Linked DNA regions of Homo sapiens: regions 2 and 3 are each reported to be linked to region 1. Evidence: microRNA targets listed by miRTarBase, many of them from high-throughput screens and not tested one by one. Region 1 holds a microRNA gene; each other region holds the end of a gene's coding sequence.

Region 1 (3,258 bases):
AAACAAGAAAAACACAGAAAGAAACAAGTAAATAAATACCCAAAGTGATACAAGAGTATTCTCCGTGTGTAGAACAGGGTTTGGTGTACATATGACTACATTATATACATGATAAGACTATATGATTAAATATACATCATATATTGTTGAGACCCTGTCTATGAAAAAAAAAAAAAAGAATATACTGTTTGCTCACATTAAAAATAACTCCTCACCGGGTGCGGTGGCTCATGCCTGTAATCCCAGCAGTTTGGGAGGCCGAGGCAGGTGGATTAGTTGAGGTCAGGAGTTTGAGACCAGCCGGACCAACATGGCAAAACCCCGATTCTACCAAAAGGACAAAAATTAGCCGGGGTGGCGGCATGCACCTGAAATCCCAGCTACTCAGGAGGCTGAGGCAGGAGAATCGCTTGAACCCGGAAGGCGTAGGTTGCAGTGAGCCGAGATCATGCCACTGCACTCCAGCCTGGGCGACAAGAATGAGACTCCATCTCAAACAAACAAACAAACAAACAAACAAAATTCCTACACACAAGTGCTTGCTTTGGCAGCACAAAAAAATACAAATAATAATTAAAAAAAAAAAAAAAAACACCCTGCAGTCCGAGCAGGGTGGCTCATGCCTGTAATCCCACCACTTTGGAAAGCAGAGGCGGGCAGATCACCTGAGGTCAGGAGTTCAAGACTAACCTGGCCAATGTGGTGAAACTCCATCTCTGCTAAAAATACAAAAATTAGCCAGGCGTGGTGGCACGTGCCTATAATACCAGCTACTTGGGAGGCCGAGGTTGCAGTGAGCAGAGAATGTGTCACTGCCTGCCCGCCTGGCCCACATAGTGAGACTCTGTCTCAAGAACAAAAACAACAAAAAAAGTAGGGGGGACCAACTAGCCTAAGAGGTCTAGGTTGGAAGCGCCACCGCACTCCTGCCCGGGCAACAGAAACCCTGTGTTGCAAAAAAACTAAACAAAAACAGAACCCCAACATCATGCAAGTCTGATGATAAGCACGCTCTGCAAATGCGTTACCAAGATCAGCATCAACTTCAACGTGGTTTTTCTCAAACAGTAACACTCTAAAAGGAGGCACTTTGTTTTCTTTCAAACAGAAAGTGCTCCCTTTTGGAGAATGACTGCATGAGATCTTCTCGCTCCAAAACTCTGGGTTTTTGTTGGAATTTTCCTTACCAGGTTAAAATGGACACAAAAATAAAGATGCATTCATTGTCCCTGTTTGCATGTTTTCTGGAATCCAGAACATAAACCCCTAAAAGGACCATCTCCAGTTCCTTGCTTCAAAGGCTCAGCAGGTTAGCCTTGTTCACGAAGGGGCAACCCTCCTGAGTATTGTCTCCAAAGAGAAAAAGCAAAGCCTACCACACATACCTTATATTTAACCAAGAGAATTGGGCTGGATTTCTAGAGAACAGCAATGGATTTTGAGCCATGTGTTCACTTGAGTTCCAGCACAGGGACACACAGTCCCGATGGGAGCAACCAAAATGGAATCTAAGATGATATTTAAGAATATACGTTGTGGGCCAGGCACAGTGGCTCATGCCTGTAATCCCAGCACTTTGCGAGGCCGAGGCAGGTGGATCACCTAAGGTCAGGAGTTCAAGACTAATCTGGCCATCATGATGAAACTCCGTCTCTGCTAAAAATACAAAAATTAGCCAGGCGTGGTGGCATGTGCCTGTAATACCAGCTACTCGGGAGGCAGAGGTTGCAGTGAGCAGAGAACATACCACTGCACTCCAGCCTGGGCCACAGAGAGAGACTGTCTCAAGAGAAAAAAAAGGGGGAGGGGGTGGGGGCAGGGACCAACTGAGCCCAAGAGGTCTAGGTTGGAAGTGTCACCGCACTCCAGCCTGGGCAAGAGACCCTGTGTTGCAAAAAAACTAAACAAAAACAGAACCCCAACATCATGCAAGTCTGATGATAAGCACGCTCTGCAAATGTGTTACCAAGATCAGCATCAACTTCAACGTGGTTTTTCTCAAACAGTAACGCTCCAAAAGAAGGCACTCTGCTTTCAGACAACAGAAAGTGCTTTCTTTTGGAGAATGACTGCATGAGATCTTCTCACTCCAAAACTCTGGGTTTTTTGTTGGAATTTACCTTACCAGATTAAAATGAACACAAAAATAAAGATGCATTCATTGGCCAGGCGCGGTGGCTCACGCCTGGAATCCCAACACTTTGGGAGGCTGGTCAAGAGACCACGACCATCCTGGCCAACATGGTGAAACTCCGTCTCTACTAAAAATACAACCATTTGCCGCCTGTGGTGGCATGTACCTGTAGTCCCAGCTACTCGGGAGGCTGAGGCAGGGGAATTACTTGAACCAGGAGGCAGAAGTTGCAGTGAGCCGAGATCGTGCCACTGCACTCCAGACTGGCAAGAGTAAGACTCCATCTCAAAAAAAAATAAAAATAAAAATAAAAAAGGTGCATTCATTGCCCCTGTTTGCATGTTTTATGGAATCCAGAACATAAACCCCTGAAAGGACCATCTCCAGTTCCTTGCTTCAAAGGCTTAGCAGGTTAGCCTTGTTCATCAAGGGGCAATCCTCCTGAGTTTTGTCCCCAAAGAGAAAAAGCAATGCCTACCACACATACCTTATCTTTAACCAAGAGAATTGGGCTGGATTTCTAAGGATGTTGAGCCAGTGTTCACTTGAGTTCCAGCACAGAAACACACAGTCCTGATGGGAACATCCAAAATGGAATCTAAGATAATGTTTAAGAATATACATTGTTGTACACACAAATACCCTCCAGGACAGACCACAGGCTAGGCCGTAAAAGCTCCTCAGTAAGATTTGACAGAGCTGGGGGGAAAAAAAGAATGTACATTGTCACACACACGAACATTCTTCAGGATAGACCACAGGCTAGGCTGTAAAACCTCAATAATTTTTTTTCTTGGAGACTAAGTTAGGAAAAACAAATGCCCACACCTAAACAACCAATCATTTCTAGTTCAAGTACATCTCAAGTATACTGTTGACCTGAAATAGAAAGTTAACCGGGTTTCCCTGCTCTGGGAAGCCCCCTTTGGTAATTCAGTTAAGGGTCTCCTTTGGAAGGTAATGGGTAGGAACATGGAGATGTCAGCCAAGGGAAGTGACTCTCAGGGATTTCTATGGATTATGCAGATGCCCTGCCAGATCCCAAACTTCCCCAAAAGATCCTAAGTCCAGGCAGGAAGGACCACTGGGGTCCAGAAACCAAATGAAGTGGCCCTGGGCAGGAG
Region 2 (3,258 bases), not on the chromosome of region 1:
CAAAACACCCTTCTTGTGTCCTTCAAAACTGCACACACTCGCACACACAGCACTTCAATATACATCCCAACACAGATTACAGAAAAGTACCTGCAATCCCTCCGTTCCTCTCTGCAACTTTGACTCTGGCTTTTGGTTTCCGTGCCTCAATTGGAAAAGGTAAGTTAGATTGTTGTAAAACCCAAAAACATTTAGGAAAAGGTCACATCTGCTGAGTAAGCATTTTTGAAACAGGTTTGCTGTGGCCTCTGCCAAACTTTGAGGGGCCTTTGTTCCACTCAGACCCTGCGCCAGTCCTCCCTCTCAGTTGTGGAGACACTTATCCTCCTCTTCAGTTAATGAGTTTCACCTAGTCTGGCCATTTGTATTTTTATAAAAGATCTGCAAAGCACTAATTGCAAAAAGAAGAAAACAGCTCGTTTTGCATTAATCAGAAGGTGGGATTCTATGGTAAAAACATTTCTATTTTAAGCTTCAAGAATCAAACCTTTCCCTAATTTCAGGATATGCACACATACAGTCAGTCAGTCTCTGGGTATAGAATGTTAAGCCCTTTGCAGCAATTATTTCTGGCTTGGGGTTTTTTACTCTTTAAAGGAATGCTGAAAGGAATAAGATATGCCCACACAAAATACACTTCCAGAAAATATTGTATATAAAAGTTGTTTCTTCTTAATGTGACATATTTCTTAAAGAAAGTGCACTTCTTCAGTCTAAAGGATTTTGTTCCAGAAATAAACTGTTCATGAAGACTCATTTTCTTTAAATATGTTACCCGGAGCCCTTGGACTATAAGCTATTATTGTTTTTGTAGGTATTGGACTGTAACAAAAAACACTGCCAACCATGTGGGCTTTTAGAACGTTTTCTAGAAGTAAAATTTCAGAATTATGGTACTATTGTGAGGAAATCAAACTAATATAAACAAACATTTTGAAATTTGGCACATCAATAATAGATTTGCTAGCTTAGTTAACATTTCTAAAGTCATTTCCATTAATATGCCAAAAACACCCCAAGTTGAGAGAATTTCCTGTGGGTGTACTGTAGCGTTTTCTTACAAATTTGTCTGCTCAGATTATTTGTTCTTACATAAAATGTTTTAAAAATTAGATCTCATTTTCTAAAAATTCTTTTACGGCCCCTTGATAAAGGGTGATTCCCTTGCTTCTTTAGTGTTTTTTCTCCCTCTGTGAAAGAAACTGGAGTTTTAAAAAATTACTATACAAGAGTCTAGAAAAAGTGCAAGTTTAACTTCTAAAACACCTTCTTATGAATTCAAGTTGCACATTCAGAAAAATGTTCTAACAATGAAGTGAAACACAATGTTTCAGCCCCAAGCTGTAATTCTAAAATCTCAAATGTAGAAGAGGTTTAGGGTCTCCGGTAACTATTTGTTTTGATCATTTGCAAATCATGCTTTATCCATGTTATTTCTTTAATTTTCATTAATTATTTATAAGCACAAATTCGTCAGCTTTTAGTATTTTTAGTCCACTACCAGTCATTTATGAGTAAACTGAGCTGTGTTGTCACATCATGACAATTAGTATTTTAAAAACACATCAAGCCATGTATAAACTTAATGAAAAAGAAATGACCACTTGACTTTTAGAAAAAAGAACTTGTTTCTTTTAAGTTATATTTAAATATCCATTAGAAACATAGGAAATATAAATCGGCATATTAAAGAGTAAATACATTATTTGTACAATAAAACACCAACAAAACCAGTGCAACTCCTAAGTTCTAAATATGGTGGAAAAATTATATTGTAGTTACTTATTCCTTATATCTTGATTACAATTCAATAAATCACCTTTCTTCTTCTTGTCATGCTTTGAATATAGATTAATTGATGTCAATTTTAGAAATTTTACTTGTTTGTTCTAGTACTTTATCAAGGTATTCAAATTCAGACAAGAAAATACCTCAAAGAGAGTAAATACCATGTTTACAGAAGGATAGGGTTATTTATTTTCTCAGTTGATGTTGGGAGACCAGATTTCATATACAAATAGTATACAACCTTTCTTATGGTGAGCTGCATCTTAGGGGGGAAAATCCTCTTTTAGCGTAACATACAAACACTCACTTGCCAAATAATCATCAAAACATTTTGAAATCAGCATTAAATTTAAAAAGCTCCATCAATCCATATAATCAGTATTTTATTTTGATTCCATTGCTCTATTACCTAAATGGCAATAATTCCTCTGCAATAATGTTGCTATGTGTATGATCCACCTTGAGCTACACTTCAATTTACTTTCAATCAAACATTAATGAAATTGCACTTAGGGGGCCCTTCGAAAATTAATCTCCCAAGATAAATTCCACTTCAAAAAGGACTGATTGTTAAAGCTGGGTTGATTTTTATAGTTACAAACGCCAACAAAGTTTCCAACTTTGAGAGCTGTAGTTAAGAATGCCGTGTGAACTTCTCCACCTTTTCGCGTCATTTAAGAACTTCTAGGAGGAGAAAATCACCACCTCAAAGCCTCGTGGCATAATGTTACACTACTCGGTTTCCGGGCTGTCGCTGTCCCCCGCCCCCAGCAAGAGGTTCACAGCCTGCTCCTCTCTGAGACCGGTTCGTTTTGAATCGCAGTTTACACGCGCGAGTCGGTTTTCGCATGCCTCCCCCATCCGTTCTAGCAGTTTCTTGCAGACCCTTCGGGTGCACCAGGACCTAGCCCCGGGGCGCCCTCGCTGTCACCACGTCCTGCCATAGAGCAGGTTGGCGCCCAGGACGCCGCCGCTGTACTCCCCGGCGGCCGCGTCCAGGGCCGCCAGGCCGCCCCCCGGGCCGTGCAGCGCGGGTGGGCTGGGCGACAGCTCCTCCAGCTCAGGTGCTGGCGTCGGGGCCGGCGGCTGCGGACCGGCCTGGCCGGGGGTGGGCGTGCTGGCGCCGTTCTGGCACGGCTTGCCGTCCTTGACCAGCACAGGCACCGCCACGCGGCGCGGGGACGGCGGCGGAGGCGGCGGCGGGCCCAGGCCGCCCTCCTGCTGCAGCTGCTGCGCCGCCTTGTCCTTGGCCTGCCGTTTCATCTTGTACCGGTGGTTCTGGAACCAGATCTTGACCTGCGTGGGCGTCAGGTGGATCATGCTGGCCAGGTGCTCGCGCTCGGGCGCCGACAGGTACTTCTGCTGCTTGAAGCGCCGCTCCAGCTCGTAGACCTGCGCCTGCGAGAAGAGCACGCGGCGCTTCCTTCGCGGAGCGGCTGCCGCCGCCGCCGCGTGCAGCGGGCCCAGCGA
Region 3 (3,258 bases), not on the chromosome of region 1:
CCTCATTGCTAGAAGGTAGTCCTCCCCCAATCTCTAGGGATCAGAAGAACCCCAGAGTAACCCAGTTTGGAGGTACTCTATGTCCTGACTCGCCTTATTTAGGACATTACAAAAATCGCTGTATAAAAGTAAGACAGCTGATCTAAATCCCAGAACTTTTCCAAAATCTATTTGTCATAAAGTTGAAAAGTAAACATTTTCCATTATTTATTGGCACCACATTTACGAATCCATTTGCCTTCAGGCTTCCTGCCTGTCTGGTGGAATTCAGGTTTGCTATGGGAAAGGATGAAGCAGATCCTAATGAAAAAAGGAAGATCTTTCAGTAACTGAAATGAAACCTACAGCCAAGGCAAGTCAGACCCAGAACACAGTTAATAACCATTAGTTAGTTCCACTGTATTCTTATTTTACATCATCCCAGATTATTTTTATCTCCTTAAAACATAGGCTTATAAGACAATTTAAATATTTTTGTTAAAGCAGTTATGGTCAATGCCCCACTGTGTCTGCAATTAAAAAAATACGTATCCTGAATATTTGGGTATGAGATTTCTGCTTTGATTTTACTCCAGAAAAACCAATTACAACATGTAATCAGGCATTTCCAGGCTTTGAAGTAAGTAAAAAGAATCCAGTCTCCTTTTCTCCAAATTCTTAGAGATGTTGAGTAGGATCCTAAAAGGCTGTAATTCACACGTTAAAACCCTGCTGAAAACACTCTCCCCTTGCATTTTGGAAGAGAGACATCACTCAGCGGGAATGGCTCCCTCAGAATCCAGAATACACCTGTTAGCCAGCTGACCCTTGTTCTAAAGTGATCCCACAATTCCTAAGATGCTCTCAGGCAGCAAGTTCTACAGTATCTCTACTGTTAGGGAATCCAGGCTGAGGAGTCACTTTAAACAAGATCAGTTCCTCTGTGGAAGATGCCTTTTGGGGACCTCTCCAAGATTCAATTTTATACACAATTGATACTTAGTTCTGTAGGTAACATGAAATCAACAGAAATATTTTGGAAACAGAAACTCCTGAAAATCACAGAAACATTTTAGCAAGTTGTGTTCCTGGATGTCTCCTGAAACCAGCCTGACAAAAACTTTGTATGAAGATGAGTTTTAATGCCCTTTAAAAAGCTCTTTTCAGTCCATGATGAATTGCCAGAATGAGTACACTGAGGCAAGGCCTTGTCCGGTGCTGAGACAGACATTAAAACAATGGTACCATGATTAAATAAGTTTTTTATTGTCACATTTAACTGCTTTGTCAGATATACATTGTAGATTTCAGTATGGCATCAAAATAAAAATATTTTCCTGAATGTCAAAATCTGAACAGAGGAGACGGTAATGGCACTTAAAAAAAAATAAATTCACACTGGCGCTGAAGCTGCGTAGTAGGTAGCTGATAACAACTGGAACACATTTGCAGATAAAGTGGTCTGCAGCGTTTTAAATCAAATGGCAGTGGTGTAAGGCCAACATAACCAGGAGAGTAGTTAAAAGACAGACCCCCATAGAGTGGCGATCCAAAGAACGGCAGTTCTAGCATTTCATTTTCCGTCTATATGATACTGTCTAATTTAGTATTGGAACTGGAGCTCAGTGAGTAAATGTGTATCCTATAAACTGAAACTACTTTTTCAGAACCCAGATTTTAAGCCTTCAACAACTTCCTTATTCTTACAGATTTTAACTAGTTCAAAGGGAAGGCAGTTAAACTCCAAGTATTAACCTCATGGCTGTCCTTGTCATAAATGGTGGGTCTTGCTGTTTCCAAACCAGAAGCTCAACATGCTCCTGAATGTCTTAGTGGTTTCAGACGTTGTGGGCAAAACTAGAAAACAAGTAGTCATTAAATAAAAATATAAGTGCATCCCAAGAGAGTCTCTACACATACTGCAATTATTCCCCAAATGGCAACTTAAAATAAAATAAGTATGGTTATTCAGCTTGAAAATGAATCTTTATTCACCAAGATTCCCAAACAGTTTATTATTAAATGTCTTTCCTCCACAGATAAAACTAACACTAGGATTTGTCAGAAGATCTAAATGAGTTATATCTCCTCTGTATGAACTCAGCTAAACCTACCGTGTCTGGAATCTGTTCATTATAAAACTCACTCCTTCTGTTCTCCACTGCTGTGTGTCCTCCAAGATTCCAGAACAGAGACCATAAATGTGCCAGTGCAACACAGTAGTCACTGTAATCCATCAAAGAAAAAATAATTAATTTATTTTATGACGTATTTATTTGGATGATTACTTACTGGTAATTAGTATCTCTACTTTTTTTTTTTAAAGGCAACCATTTTAAGTGATAATACATATCAAGCTAGTAGAAAAAAGTTGGAAGCCCTCTCTTTTATCTCACAAAGTCATGCAGACAAGAGAAGGTATATCTGATTTGTTCTAATCAGGCTTCTTGGAATTATCAAAATTTCTTTTCTGGCAAAGATGAATTTGGCTCATCATAGAAAGAAGTTCTTTGAAGGCTGCTGCTAAACTTGTTTCCCTTTGAAAAAGTAAATTTCAAGGCATGATAGTGCAAGAGGTAAGTTTTTGATTTATAGAACATTTATAGACTAATTGTGCTTAGTCTCTAATTTCCAATTTATTTTAAAGAACAGAAACTACGCTGATAAGTTTCACTTTGCCTAAATTTACCAGTATATCCATGAATCGCACCAGAATTAGGACAATTTGATTATCTTAATGATTCTGTCATGAAACTTGCACACTGTATCCAAAGGTAAAGAGCAGCGGATGGAGGCTCCCACAAGTTCTGTGCACAAGGACTCTCTTCTCGGGAGTTAAGGTATCTGAGAAAGCAGTTCTCCCCCCAGATTAAGTTCTCAAAAACCCTCTCAGTAAGCAATGAAGAAAAACAGTGCTAGGTGGAGAGTTTCTTTTGTTTAGTTAAATCTGGGAGGTCTGAGTGTTCCTGGGGTCCTCGTCGGGATGTGCCATGGGTCGAGAATCCTTTGAATGTGAGTATTCACTATTAGAAGGCTCTGTAGGGTCAATCAAATTTTCATAATCACTGTCGTCTGAATCCTCACCACTGTCTCCAGCTGCTCTTTGGGGAGGAGGAAGGTCAGCCCCACTTCCAGGATACTTCAGTCCGGCACTGGTGGAAGCATAATTGGAAGAGCCCACAGCTTGAGGTCGAGGCATAAAGACACTCCTTTCCATGCGAGAGTGGCTCAAAGTACTTTCTTGATTGTTTGGGTGAAAATCAGAGTAAGGGGGAGGAG

Evidence for each region. The annotated mature microRNA hsa-miR-515-5p reads UUCUCCAAAAGAAAGCACUUUCUG and lies in region 1 at 2,043-2,066, opposite strand. An mRNA with a match to its seed (bases 2 to 7 or 8) in the 3' UTR can be bound and repressed. Matches are read on the target gene's strand: a 7mer-m8 pairs with bases 2 to 8, a 7mer-A1 pairs with bases 2 to 7 and ends in A, and an 8mer does both.
Region 2: miRTarBase lists NKX2-4 as a target of hsa-miR-515-5p. Seed matches in the 3' UTR shown: 7mer-A1 at 2,442-2,448.
Region 3: miRTarBase lists ABRAXAS2 as a target of hsa-miR-515-5p. Seed matches in the 3' UTR shown: 7mer-A1 at 2,134-2,140.

Annotation. Positions count from the first base shown.
Region 1 is chr19:53,677,824-53,681,081 of GRCh38, reverse strand. It overlaps MIR515-1 (microRNA 515-1), which reads right to left and starts at 2,079; the gene lies at 1,997-2,079. MIR519E (microRNA 519e) reads right to left here and starts at 1,142; the gene lies at 1,059-1,142. The region is part of intron 2 of LOC107985342 (a long non-coding RNA gene); the gene reads right to left. RefSeq lists an enhancer at 2,887-3,258.
Region 2 is chr20:21,393,196-21,396,453 of GRCh38, forward strand. It overlaps NKX2-4 (NK2 homeobox 4), which reads right to left. Exons shown (of 2, transcript NM_033176.2): 2 at 2,170-3,258. The coding sequence ends at 2,716. Among named protein-coding and RNA genes, the nearest start is that of NKX2-4, 2.7 kb to the right of the region's middle.
Region 3 is chr10:124,834,634-124,837,891 of GRCh38, reverse strand. It overlaps ABRAXAS2 (abraxas 2, BRISC complex subunit), which reads right to left. Exons shown (of 9, transcript NM_032182.4): 9 at 1,225-3,258. The coding sequence ends at 2,921. Among named protein-coding and RNA genes, the nearest start is that of ABRAXAS2, 34 kb to the right of the region's middle.